2 linked regions of the Homo sapiens genome follow. The protein of the gene in region 1 interacts with the protein of each later gene in a pairwise test. Each region holds a gene or a part of one and is shown on either strand. Other genes may lie near its edges.

The links.
Region 2: the proteins of AP3M1 (region 1) and FRMD6 interact in binary tests that used the Homo sapiens proteins (3 or more experiments, as listed by UniProt).

Annotation. Positions count from the first base shown.
Region 1 is NC_000010.11:74,126,825-74,133,851, forward strand, and holds part of AP3M1 (AP-3 complex subunit mu-1), read right to left. Parts: intron 3,169-7,027; coding exon 3,083-3,168; intron 2,418-3,082; coding exon 2,284-2,417; intron 1-2,283. UniProt on the Homo sapiens protein: Part of the AP-3 complex, an adaptor-related complex which is not clathrin-associated. The complex is associated with the Golgi region as well as more peripheral structures.
Region 2 is NC_000014.9:51,703,909-51,710,935, reverse strand, and holds part of FRMD6 (FERM domain-containing protein 6), read right to left. Parts: intron 6,188-7,027; coding exon 6,001-6,187; intron 2,859-6,000; coding exon 2,703-2,858; intron 1-2,702.

The DNA of each region.
Region 1 (7,027 bases):
GCTGGGTGTGGTGGCTCATGCCTGTAGTCCCAGCTATTTGGAAGCCTGAGGCAGGAGAATCGCTTGAACCTGGGAAGCGGAGATTGCAGTGAGCTGAGATCGTGCCACTGCACTCCAGCCTGGGCAAAGGAGCGAGACGCCATCTCAAAAAAAAAAAAAAAAAAAAAAAAAAAAAAAGTAAAAAATAACAATATAACTACAATAAAAATAAAAAGTCAACATGGTATAACAATTATTTACACAGTGTTTACAGTGTACTATCACAAGTAACTTGGAGATGATTTAAAGTATACAGGAGGATGTGCATAGGTTATATGCAAATACTACACCATTTTATGTAAGGGACTCGAGCATCTGCTGATTTTTGCAACCAGTCCTCCAAGGATACCAAGATGGCAGTACCTCTAGAACTGCAGATTCAGTATCTACACAAGGGGGAGCTGAGTACAGCATAATGTTCTTGTACCACTGTGCTGGGAACTGTATACAAATCAAGACAGAAATCTGAAGTTTAATAACAGTATAAACAATTGGGGTGGCTGGGTGCAGTGGCTCACACCTGTAATCCCAGCACTTTGGGAGGCCAAGGCAGGCAGATCACTGGAGGTCAGGAGTTTGAGACCAGCCTGGCCAACATGGTGAAATCCCCTCTCTAATAAAAAAAAAAAATAACAAAAAACAAAAATTAGCTGGGCGCGGTGGCAGGTGCCTGTAATCCCAGCTACTTGGGAGGCTGAGGCAGGAGAATCGCTTGAACCCAGGAGGTAGAGGTTGCAGTGAGCCAAGATCACACCATTGCACTCCAGCCTGGGTGACAATAGTGAAACTCCGTCTCAAAACAAACAAACAAAACAAAATAACATAAAACAAACAAACAAAAACAATTGGGGCAAATGGCCCTAGTTTAAAATGAATTATGATCCCACTGAAAAATAATGTAAAATATGTTTTATATAAATGAAAACAGTTCCTATGTGATAAGAGCCAAGAAACAGGCCAGGCACGGTGGCTCACGCCTGTAATCCCAGCACTTTGGGAGGCTGAGGTGGGCAGATCACCTGAGGTCTGGAGTTCGAGACCAGTCTGACCAACATGGAATAACCCCGCCTCTACTAAAAACACAAAATTAGCCGGGTGTGGTGGTGCATGCCTGTAATCCCAGCTACTTGGGAGGCCGAGGCAGGAGAATCACTTGAACCCTGGAGGTGGAGGTTGCAGTAAGCCGAGATTTCACCATTGCACTCCAGCCTGAGCAACAAGAGCCAAACTCCGGCTTAAAAAAAAAAAAAAAAAAAAAAAAGGAAAAGAAAAGAGCCGAGAAATAATTTCTCTGTTTTTGAGTTCTGTCATGATGTTACTCAAATAACTTTTGGTATTTTCAAGAAACAAACTACCTATAACTCCGATCCCCAATGCTAAATTTTTTTTTTTTTTGAGATGGAGTTTTACCCTGTTGGCCAGGCTGTAGTGCAGTGGTGTGATCTGTCACTGCAACCTCTGCCTTCCAGGTTCAAGTGATTCTCATGCCTCAGCCTCCTAAGTAGTTGAGATTATATAGGCACACGCTACCACGCCTGGCTAATTTTGTGTTTTTAGTAGAGACAGGGTTTCACCATGTTGACCAGACTGGTCTAGAACTCTTGACCCCAAGTGATCTGCCCACATTGGCCTCCCAAAGTGTTGGGATTACAGGAGTGAACCACTGCACCCGGCCCCTCAATGCTAAACAGTTCCTTAAAAACTCAACGCAGAGAAGACGTACTTGAAGCAGGTAAATTGGGGAATGTCCTCACGAACTACAGGTAGGTCTGTCTCCTTGTTGGCCACAAACTCTACAGACTATGGTAAGATTATGGCAATGGTTCATGGTTTTGCCCAGGTTATGCATGGTCCGTTTTGCTCTGCTTGCAAAGTACTCAGCTTTCAGAAGCAGAGCAAAATGGACCATGCATAACCTGAGCAAAGAACCAGTGCCATAATTTGACCATGCATAACCTTGCAAAGGACCGGTACCACAATTTTTGCCCAGGTTATGTATGGTTTGCTTGTTCTTGGCTATAGATTTTACTCTAGTCTCACTTAGTACCACTCTACACTCATACATTCAAAGTATACGGATTATTTTAGGTGCGTATTTTCACCCGTTCTCACTGGGTCTCCTGGTGAGCTATGGTTAAAGTGAGCAGTGATGACCTCAAGTACTCAACTTTCAGAAAGAAACAGGGAAAGGTGAGTTGTACTTGATATGTATGATGGCAGATTCTGGCTGATGCATCAACATACTTTTGTGAGCTGACACGGTATGATATGAGTCGGAAATTTCCATCTGGAGGAATAAATGACAAAACTCTTTCAGATTCCCAACGCTTGAACCGGATGCAGGGGTGAAAGCTGACATCATCCAGAAGCCTAGGGTTCTGCCAGAAAAACAGAAGACAGTCGTTCATAGACTATAATGAATATGGGAACTGTACTCAGATACCTTGACAAATATGTTCCCTGAAGATAAAGCAGTCATGGAAGAGTTTATGACCACATCTACACAACCTTATAGTTTCATAATGCTTTAAAGTTTGTAAATATTTTATGTACATTATTTTATTTGAATTTCAATAACTATAAAGGAGAAAAGGCAAGTAGTATTATTTCCCTTTAACAGATTAAAAAACTGAGGTTCAGAGGACTTAAGGTCAGAGCAAACTGGTGACAACACCAGAAGTCAGTTCTCTTAATTGTTCCTAGCAGTATATCATGCTGACTCTAAAATGATACAAAAGACCAGTGTCCTTTCATATCAGCAAAGCAAATAATTATTCAGTAAAAATGATACTGGATATTTGCAGAAGCCAGCCAGCCAATTTTAAGCCCCTTCTAGCACACTCAGGCAAAGACCTCCCTTAGTCTTTCCACAAAGACCACGCTCATCATGTAAGCGACTGTCTTAGGAAACTCTGCTAGGAATATTTCTGAGATAATCCTTTGCAATCTAAGATGCAAACTTATCTCAATATTTATCATTTCATTTAGTACTTCACATGTATTAGGCATTCAAGGGGCTATAAAACAGGAGAATAAAACTTACCATGAAAGAAAGGGAGAGATCAGGCATTCCAGATAGTTTAATGCAAGCATCAATGACCCCCTGAATTTCTGCAAAGACTGTAGATCCTGAAGAAAGAAAAAAAAAAGGAAGATAACATCAATGGAATATGAGTCTTCACTAGACCTATCACTGTATCTTTTTATTTTTATTTATTGTTTTTAGAGACAGAGTCTTGCTCTGTTGCCAAGGTTGGAGTGCAGTTGTATGATCATAGCTCACTGCAGCCTCACTCCTGGGCTCAAGTAATCCTCCTGCCCTAGCCTCCCAAATAGCTGGGAATATAGGTGCGTGCCATGACACCTAGCCCAACAATCACTACATCTAGAACAATAGAGATACCCTCTGGGTGTCAGATTAACTGAAGCTTTACATCTCTATTAACAGGTCAGGGGACAAGGTCCATACTTAACTCTGGCTGGAATATAATAATAATTCTTTTATTTTTAAGAGATAAAGTCTGACTAGCTAGTCCCAGCTGGTCCCCAGAGTAACTGAGACTACAGGTATGCCACTGTAGAATATAATTTTTTTTTTTTTGAGACAGGGTCTTGCTCTGTCACCCAGGCTGGAGCGTAGTGGTGCTATGATAGCCAGCCTCAACCTCCTGGGCTCAAGCAATCCTCCCACCTCAGCCTCCCAAGCAGCTGGTACTACAGGCATGCACCTCCACGCCTGGCTAATTTTTGTATTTTTTTTGTAGAGACAGGGTCTTGTTATGTTGCCCAGGCTGGTCTCAAACTTCTGGGCTCAAGCAATCCGCCTACCTTAGCTTCCCAAAGTGCTGGGATTACAGGTGTGAGCTACCATACCCAGCCAGAATATGCTAATTCTAAGGAAAATTAAACTGTTTCCTTTATGGAGCCAACCCTGTAAGATGACTGGATATGAGTTTAAAACATTTGGCAGGACGCAGTGGCTCATGCCTGTAATCCTAGCACTTAGGGAGGCTGACGTGGGTAGATTATCTGAGCTCAGGAGTTTGGGACCAGCCTGGGCAACATGGCAAAACCCCGTTTCTACTAAAAATACAAAAAATTAGCCAGGCGTGGTGGTGTGTGCGTGTAGTCCCAGCTACTTGGGAGGCTGAGGCAGGAGAATCGCTTGAACGTAGAAGGCGGAGGTTGCAGTGAGCTGAAACCACAACACTGCACTACAGCCTGGGCGACAATGTGAGACTCTGTCTCAAAAACAAAATAAAACAAACCAACCAAAACCATTTTCAATAGAATTTTATTTTTTTTTAATTTTTTTTTTGAGACGGAGTCTTGCTCTGTCACCCAGGCTGGATGGAGTGCAGTGGCGCTATCTGGGCTCACTGCAAGCTCTGTCTCCCGGGTTCACGCCATTCTCCTGCCTCAGTCTCTCGAGTAGCTGGGACTACAGGCGCCTGCCACCACACCCAGCTAATTTTTTGTATTTTTAGTAGAGATGGGGTTTCACTGTGTTAGCCAGGATGGTCTGGATCTCCTAACCTCGTGATCCACCCGCCTCAGCCTCCTAAAGTGCTGGGATTACAGGTGTGAGCCACCGCGCCCGGCTTCAATAGAATTTTAAAATGTGGCAAGTGTATTATGAAATGGACTAAGTTAACTTTTAAGAAATAGGATCCATAATAGAAAGATATCTCTTTTTTTTTAAGAGACAGGGTCTCCCTCTGCCATCCAGGCTGGAGTACAGTGGTGTGAACATAGTTCACCACAGCATTGAACTCCTGGGCTCAAGCAATCCTCCTGCCTCAGCCTTCTGAATAGGTAGGATTAAGGAAGCCATGCCTAGCTAATCTTTTAAATTTTTGATAGATATGGGGTCTTGCTATGTTGCCTAGGCTGGTCTTGAACTCCTGGGCTCAAGTGATCTTCCTGCCTAAGCCTCCCAAAGTGCTGGGATTACAGGTGTGAGCCACCGTGCCTGGCAAAAATCTATTATTCTATAAGATGGAATGTTATAATGAAAAGGGGACTCATGGAAGAGAAGATATTGACTATAATTCACAATAAGCCATCATTACATATTAACAAGTTGTGTGACCTGGAACAGTTCACTTAACCCTTCTGGGCTTTCCTTATGTGTAAAATAAATGTAAAGGAAGGACTAGATTTTTTTTCTTTTTTCTTTTTTTGTTTTTTTAGAGATGGAGTCTCACTCTGTCACCCAGGCTGGAGTGCAGTGGTGCAATCTTGGCTCACTGCAACCTCTGCCTCCCAGGGTCAAGCAATTCTCCTGCCTCAGCCTCCCAAGTAGCTGGGTTTACAGGCGCCTGCCACCACGCCCAGCTAATTTTTGTATTTATAGTAGAGACGGGGTTTTACCATGTTGGCCAGGCTGGTCTCAAACTCCTGACCTCAAGTGATCTGCCTGCCTCGGCCTCCCAAAGTGCTGGAATTACAGGCGTGATCCACCATGCCCGGCTGCTATTTTTAATAATAAAATTTTACGATTCTTATAGAGTACTATTGTTTTGTCTGGTTAAAAAGATAATCAGATTGGGTGTGGTGGCTGATGCCTGTAATCCCAGCACTTTGGGAGGCTGAGGTAGGTAAACTGATTGAGCCCAGGAGTTCAAGACCAGCCTGGGCAACATGGTGAGACCCTGTCTGTACAAAAAAAACAAATAAAAGTTAGCCAGGCATGGTGGCGTGTGGCGTGTACCTCCTGATTGGCTGGGACTATAGGCTACTCAGGAGTTTGAGGTAGGAGGATCACATGAGCTGGAGGTCAAGGCTACAGTAAGCAGGGACTGCGCCAATGCACTCCAGCCTAGGCAAAAGAGCAAGACCCTGTACTTAAAAAAAAAAAAGAAAGTGAAAAATAATCAGATAGGGGCTTTTACCAGAAGTACTGCACATAATGTAGTAGCAAAAGCATGGTATATAGCAGATTTTCAATAAATGTTAGAAGGAATAAATAGCAAGAGGTAGAGGTACATAGGGTAATAATTGGCTTAAAGTAAGGCATTATGAGTTCTGATTTACATGTTTGGCAGACCTCAACTAGTGGTTATGAAAATTATATGTAACCTATGGGCAAAATAAACAGATTTATGGGCCAGGTGCAGTGGCTCACGCCTGTAATCCCAGCCCTTTGGGAGGCCAAGGCAGGTGGATCACTTGAGGTTAGGAGCTTGAGACCAGCCTGGCCAACATTGTGAAACCCCGTCTCTACTAAAAATACAAAAAATTAGCCAGGGCCGGGAGCGGTGGCTCACGCCTGTAATCCTAACACTTTGGGAGGCCGAAACGGGCAGATCACCTAAGTTCAGGAGTTCGAGACCAGCCTGACCAACGTGGAGAAATCCCATCTCCACCAAAAACACAAAATTAGCTGGGCATGCTGGTGCATGCCTGTAATCCCAGGTACTCGGGAGGCTGAGGCAGAAGAACTGCTTGAACCCGGGAGGCGGAGGTTGCGGTGAGCTGAGATTGCACCATTGCACTCCACCCTGGGCAATAAGAGTGAAACTGCGTCTCAAAAAAAAAAAAAAAATTTAGCCAGGTGTGGTGGCTCATGCCTGTAATCCCAGCTACTTGGGAAGCTGAAGCAGCAGGATCGCTTGAATCCAGGAGGTGAAGGTTCCAGTGAGCCAAGATCATGTGATTGCACTCCAGCCTGGACAACAGTGTGAGACCCCGTCTCAAATAAATAAATAAATAAACAAACAGATTTAAAAATCATCAGATAATGAATGCCTTTCCACCGAAACCATACTGCCAAAGGACTTCAATTTTCTTTTCCTTTCTTCTTCTTTTTTTTTTTTTTGTTGAGACAGAGCCAGGCTGGAGTGCAATGGCATGATCTTGTCTCATTGCAACCTCTGCCTCCTGGGTTCAAGCAATTTTCCTGCCTCAGCCTCCCGAGTAGCTGGGATTACAGGTGCGCGCCACCATGCCCGGCTAATTTTTTGTATCTTTAGTAGAGACAGAGTTT
Region 2 (7,027 bases), on another chromosome or scaffold:
ATCACTTGCCAATATGATACACAATCTACCAGCTAAACCATAAACTGTAGAAAATAAACTACAATGAGCATAAGGGGAAAAAAAAACCTCCACAATTAAAAATTCACTTTAAAATTCAGCCACATCCTTTAAGTGCTCATCTGTAATAAGTATATATAGTGTATAAAGTTCAAAATAGAAATGAAATTACTAAGTAAATATTTTCATTATGAGATTTCCCAATAAACACAATGAGTATGCAGAGATCTTTTTAAGCTTAGTGCCAGCTTTCCCATGAACATGGGATGAAATATTTTTAAAACATGTGTCCTCACCTGGCATTATAAATATAAGACACAGCCTATTTCTACTATTTAGGCTGTTTCTTTCCAACTAGTATATTTTTACATCAAGAAAAACACATATAGCATAAGCTTTAAGAGGAGAAACTAATCCATCATTATATGAGTTTTGGTCAATTTCGCTTTCAAGGATGTACAGATTGCTTTCCAAAATAAGGCTATGCTCATAAAAATGCTGGTTTTCAAGTATACGGTATATATTGGTGGGAAAGGGGCACAAAACGGGTTTTTTTTCCAGAATGTTCCCTTGTCCTTTGTCTACCTTATTTCCCGTTTATGAGCAGCTCCTAAATGAAGCAGATTTAATGGCTGCCGCTGAATTTCTCCAAAGAATAAAAACTGTGAATCAGCCAATATCTTTTCCCCCACTTCATTATGTTACATTTTTACTAAAAATCTTTTTAGCAGATAAGAGTCATTTTCTATGCAATTCAGAAGCGCCATACTTTAAGTAAACTTGAAAATTAAGTTTTACACAGAAGATAAATTGGGGATATCTACTTCAACAAAAGATTCTTATTTCTTAATAGGATTCTTTAAAATAGCAAGCTTCCCCAGCAAATAAGGCAAAAAGCAATTAATGGTTATTGAGCACTCACTAATGTGCCAGGTATTCCACCTCATTATTTCAGATTCATTATCTCACCAAAGCCTCCCAACCTTGTGAAGCATATTGTATCATCCCCACTTAATAGACAGCTCAGGATTATAGTTGCCTAGGATCCCAGCTATAGCGAGTAGTGACATAGGGTTTCTAATTGACATCTGATTCCAAAGCCACACTCTTACTCTTTCCAACATATCATTCATACTTCTAATACATTTTAAAATATAAACTAATTATCAAAACTGTCATTTATTTGCATTTTCTTGTGTCAATTGAGGTGTCACAAATAAAATCTCTTCAGGCTAAAAAAAAATTACAACTCAGTCCTTTAGGAATTTAGCCAAACAGATCTTATGGAACTCAATTATGCCTTTCAAGGAAGATGGGGCATTAATAATGCATCTCTTGGGCATAGAAGAGAGATAGAAAAAACATCAGTTGGTCCCTTAAGTTTTCTGAACCAGCTAACAAGATTACTGAGCAATACATCCAAACTAAAGCCCAGTTTCCAATGGTCTAGCTATGCTAATCCTACCACAAAAGGCAAAGTAGAGATAACAAGCATAATACTATCAATGGTAATGGTAACAGCAGCCAACTTAACATCATGCTTAACATGTGCTGGGCACTGTTTTAAGCAGTTTTTCATCCAACAATTCCTTTAGTATTCAGCAATCCTAAAAAGCAGGTATGTTGCTGTCCCCTTTAACTATGGGGAAACTGAAGTACAGAGCGGTTAAGTAAGTAACTTGCCTGAGGTCACATAGTAAGAGGCCAAACTGAGATTCAATCCTAGGCAGTTAGGCTCAACTTACAGTGCTCTTAACCACTTCATCCATTTGGTTTGAGAATACACCTTTGAATACTTAAGTGGGTATTCAGGAGTTCTTGCCAACAAAGTGGCACTTATGGAATAGTGAAAGGGGTTAGGAGGAGGAGGGGAAGAGAAGACAAGATGATATAGAGTACTGTGAGTGATTCCCTGCAGAGCATGGCCCCAGTTGTTATTTGGGTGTGTGACCTCTGCCCCAGAAAGGAAAAACGAGGCTAGAGATACACGGGACACAAAGGAGAGTAACTTCCGAGAGTGAGGAACGTGTGGAATACAGTGCCTTAGGCTCACAGCCTATGTTATCAAGAAGGCCTTGACTAAATCCTGGCTTTGCCATTTAGTTTTGTGATCTTAGGTGATTCATTTAATCTCTTTAAGCCTCAGTTTCCTGGACTGTAAAATAAAGATTAAAGTACCTTTCATATAAAGTTATGAGGATTAAAAAAAACACATATAAAGTGTGCCCAGTAAACACAGGACTCCATAAACATTACCTGTTGTGGTAATGTTCTTGTAACTGACGGATACAACGCAGGTATAGCTTCACTTTGAGGAATATTAAAAATTACTTATCAAAGAAGTTGCAAATGCTATTCCCCAAAGCAGAAAAGCAGATTTGGGGAGGAGAGAAATAACAATGCCATAATCACTAAAAAAGTCAGATTAACATCTTATAGCCAATTGTCATCTCACTATTAGAACCATTAAAAAATACTCCACCCCGCTTCCAGGCCAGAGTAAAAGCACCATGGCCTCCAAGACTGACGTGCGATAACAAAAAGCAGTTCAATGAAACTCTTTTAAAAGCATGTAAAAAATGAAATAAGTTTTAATGGAAATGAAATCCTTCGGTTTTCCTTCTCAATCCTATTGAGAAGATGTTTTTTTCTCAGAAGCTGAAGACTTAGTTGCCGTTTCATACCTTATACAATCTGTAGTAATGAACAGCGACGTCATCCAGTCGGACAGCCTCTTTGATATATTTAAGATGAGCTTCGGAAGCTGTTAGTGCAAACTGATCTTTGTGCATGTTTGGAATGTGCTTCAGGATGTAGTCCTTCCCCCTCTTGGAAACAACCTGTTGGGATACAAGGGGTGTGCAATGCAACATTTGTTGGAGAGATGTAAGTTCTACCCCCACCCCCAAAATGATGAAAGAATGAGAAGCTAAAATAGGCCATGTAAACTGGTTGGTTTGCATTGAAAATTCATTCTGTTTTCACCATCTGTTATGTTACTAGGCTAAATCAGCTAATACTAGAAGCTATAGAGTCAATTTAGTTGTACTGCTGAATACCTAAGAAGAAAAATCACAACAAATAGGAAAAATAAGTTATCTTTGCTTTAAAGTCACCAAGAGAAAAACACTACACAAACTTTCATAATTTTGTACACATAATTGTTTATACTTGCAAGTTTATACTTGGTACCATGAAATACATCTATAGTAGGCACATCTTCAGGTTCTGGATCCTACCTAACTCTTAAGAAAATTTCAGCCACAGACTGGGAGGTTCTAAATGTTAATCAAAAGAAGGCAGGGTACTGGGAGAAATTCTCTAAAACATTTTTGGTTCTTGCATAAGAGGCTGATATGAACACTGCTGGAATACTTATGAGAAAACCGTTTCATTCAAACACTCATTGTGATTCACTGTGACTTAGATTTTCATCAGACAGTACTCTGGGCTTTCAGATGTCAAATATATAGTATCCAGCAGCTGCAGGCTAAGAGAAAGGTGTTGATTAAAGTCTTAGCTGATTCCATAAGGAACTTAACAGATGGAAAGAATTATGCAATGTGAGCAAGAGTCGTGCTTAAAATAATCAAAATTTAAAAATTACAGACTTTTTGGTTTTAAAATGTCTTTATATTGACATTTTGTTTCTTCCTATTGAATATTTTACAGAGAATTAAATATGATGAATTAATAGTCAGTTGTCAAGTTCTGCTAAGAACTCAAGTTACACAGATTTTTCTTTCCAGGTTCTTTTCACATGGTAATCAGTTAAATCAGTTATTTATCAACCTTTTTTTCAGGTCAAAAGCACACTGAAAACAGTATTTGTAAGGGCACTAAAGCAGATGGCTTTGGTGATCCCAAGGGTGGGGGAAACTGATATCTCAGCACACTGGTTGCCCTGGCATACTAACTGGATTTCAATAATCAATATTCAATGAGCACCTGATGACAACCAGAGAATGCAAACATGCTACAGACAGCAATAGTTTGACAGACATTGTGATTTCTCTCCAAAAAAATGAAGCACTCTAAGTCACACAACAAAAAATTACTGAGTACCTCAATATGAAGAGCTGATGAAATAGAAAAGGTTAAGGTTATGCCCGTCTTTCAGAACACACTAAGAAACAGTTTACTGGGAGCAAGAAATAAATCATTTTAAAATAAGATGTAAAACACTATTCCCAGGTTCTTCTTGAGCACTGGGCACCTAGATGGTCTGCCCAGAAGGAGCGACACCTGGGCTGAGTCTCGGAGGATGAGTAGGAGTTAGCCAGGTGAAACAGAGAGGGGCTTCACTGGCTAAAGGAACTGCAAGAAGAAAGACCTGAAGCATGAAACACCACAGTAAGTATGGAGACACACCAATGGCTGGATGTTGCCAGAGCCTAAAGTTCAAGGTGCAGGACAACCAGAAAGGAAGCTGGAATGGCTGGCAGGGACTATAATCTGGAGAGTTTCTAGGTTATGCATGGGAGCCTGAGCTTCACTCCACAGGTGACAGAGGAGGCCCTGAAAGTTTAAGTCAGAAGCAAAATCATCTCATCTGCAAGCTGTGGAGTAAAGACCGAAGCAGGGACAAGTTTCTGCAACAGTGCTGCTGAGAACACGAACCTAGAAACAGCAGGAGCTAAGACAGGGAGAGGAGGCAATGGACATTTAGGAAGGCTAATGGCAATAAAAATAGAAGATAATTTTATTTCTTAAGCTGGGTGATTGGTATTCAAGCACAGACATTACAAGGTGTTACAGTTGATGGGACAGGACAGGGAGAAGGAATGGTGATAAGGCAGAGTTCCGTATGACTCCCACGTACTCAGAGGTAGGAATACGTAGAAATGAGGTGGCAAGAAAATGAATTTGATTTAGGACATCTTGAGTTTGAACGGCCTATGGGTAAACAGCTACCTTATGGATATAGGGGAAAAAACCAGATTTGGGACTTGCCTTCACATAGGTGATCGTTAAAAGCATTAATTTGGATGAGATCTCCCAAGATGTGAGTAGTTAAGTGTCAGGTACAGCAGCAAAATTTAGTGAAAAGAGTCTGCTGGATATGTTAATATAAAGCAACTGGTGTCAATATAAAGCAAAAGTAGTGCATATTTAATTTTTTACTTCTTTACTGTATTGATATAAAGCAACCTAACAGGCAGCACCATGAGTGGACTGATGGGGAAAGAAGGCAGATGGAAATGGCTTGAGGAACACTTGTGGGAAGTAAAGAAGCTGAAAAAATCAAATACACACTACCTCTTCAAGATGCTTTACTGAGAAGGAAAGGCAAGAGTAGTAGCTCTTCTTTCCCTCCCCACTTTCTTTCTCAAGGATGGGTGGGTGAGAACCAAACATGTTTTGCATGTTCTCACTGAAGAAGAGTTACTTTGGGGAGGGGCTAATGATATAGAAGAGAGACAGAAAATACAGCCTAGACATGGAGGAAGGACGGGAAGAGAAACAGACAGGGTGGAGTGGAGAAAGCGCAGCTGAGACAGTTCACGTTGGAATAACCCACATTTTCTTGCTGAAAGAAGGGGTTAGTTCCTCCCCGAGAGTGGAGGACATGGAGGCCGGAGCCAGAAGTTGACATACTTGTTCTCGCAGCAAAGGAAAGCGAGGAATAATCTTACTTTTTAAAGAGTTATGTTTTTCTGCCTTCAAAGGGAGAAAATACTGCTTCGGTAAGAGTAGGCAAGAAGGTCAAGGGCATGTCAATGCTGAAAGGAGGCTGGTAAATTCCAAGCTCCACTGTATTATCAGGATGGATGGCAATTCTCTACCCCACTCACCATAAGCAGACTAAGTACATGAAGACATGATGTGCACCACGTTCTTAAGCATTAAATATCTGGGCATCACAAAGAATTTGGCCACAGAACATCTGTGTTCCCATTTCTTAAAGAGTATGAGTAGCAACACTACGAACTAGAAATGCCCGAGAGAAAACACTCTTTCGAATTTGAAAACAGTGCTTACCCAAGATGGGAAGTAAGCCTCTGGCTCGAAGTATTTTCCATAGTGCTTATTCCTTTTGAAGTTCCCAAGATCAGCCTGCAGGGCAAAGGCTGCCAGCAGGAAGTAGGCCTCCTCTCGGAGCACACACTGAGAATGAAGAACTTGTTTTCTCAGGTGCCAGTAATAATAGTATCTTGCTGCTCTGTCACTAGAAAAATAAAAGAAAACAGAACTCACATTTTGATGGAATAATCCAATGACATGTAAACAGAACCCAAATCCTTCTCTCCATCTGGTGACAGGAACCCTTCTGTTTCTGCTCCTCCCTCCCACCTCACTGAAAAGGAAGCGGTTGTAGCTAATATCTGATAGCTGCCTCACTGAGGTTGCAGGGGGTCAGAACCCCAAATCAGACTATCCAGACAATAAAAATAACGTTTCCTAAGGCTTACAGCATTTGATTCATTCAGAGAAGAAAAAGGTCTGAATCATTCCACTCTAAAATGGTAAATATTTCACTGAACAAGTATTAGAATAGAAACTAGACATGTGTTGTCTGTACTAATGTTGCTACAATGATGCTACACACGTGACATAAATAAGGAAAAATCTGAGGAGCAATCCTGCTTCAGTGTTTTGCTGTTCTTTTTATTATTTTTTAACTGAACACACTACAAATACTCTAAGGCCCTTTATAAGTATTTGCATATATACTCTTCTGGAAAAAAATTTGCTTAACAAAGGTTTCTTTTCCGTTTTTTAAACTTCTCCAAGAAGAAATGCAATGAATGCTTTCCTTAAATCTTTTTTTGGGGATTTTTTTGAAGTGAATGTTACATTACTGTTATGTTTTTACAGGCACATGTCACGACAATTATTATACTCCCCACAAAAGGAAATACTAACAGAGCACTCATTACAATCTCTTGAGATCAGAAATAAATACAGTCATCATTAAATACGTTAAGAAATGCTGACTGGGGAAAACATGGTAAAAGCTCCAAAAAATATTTACTGGCAAATAGGATGCTTTTGTGATCAAAGTAAA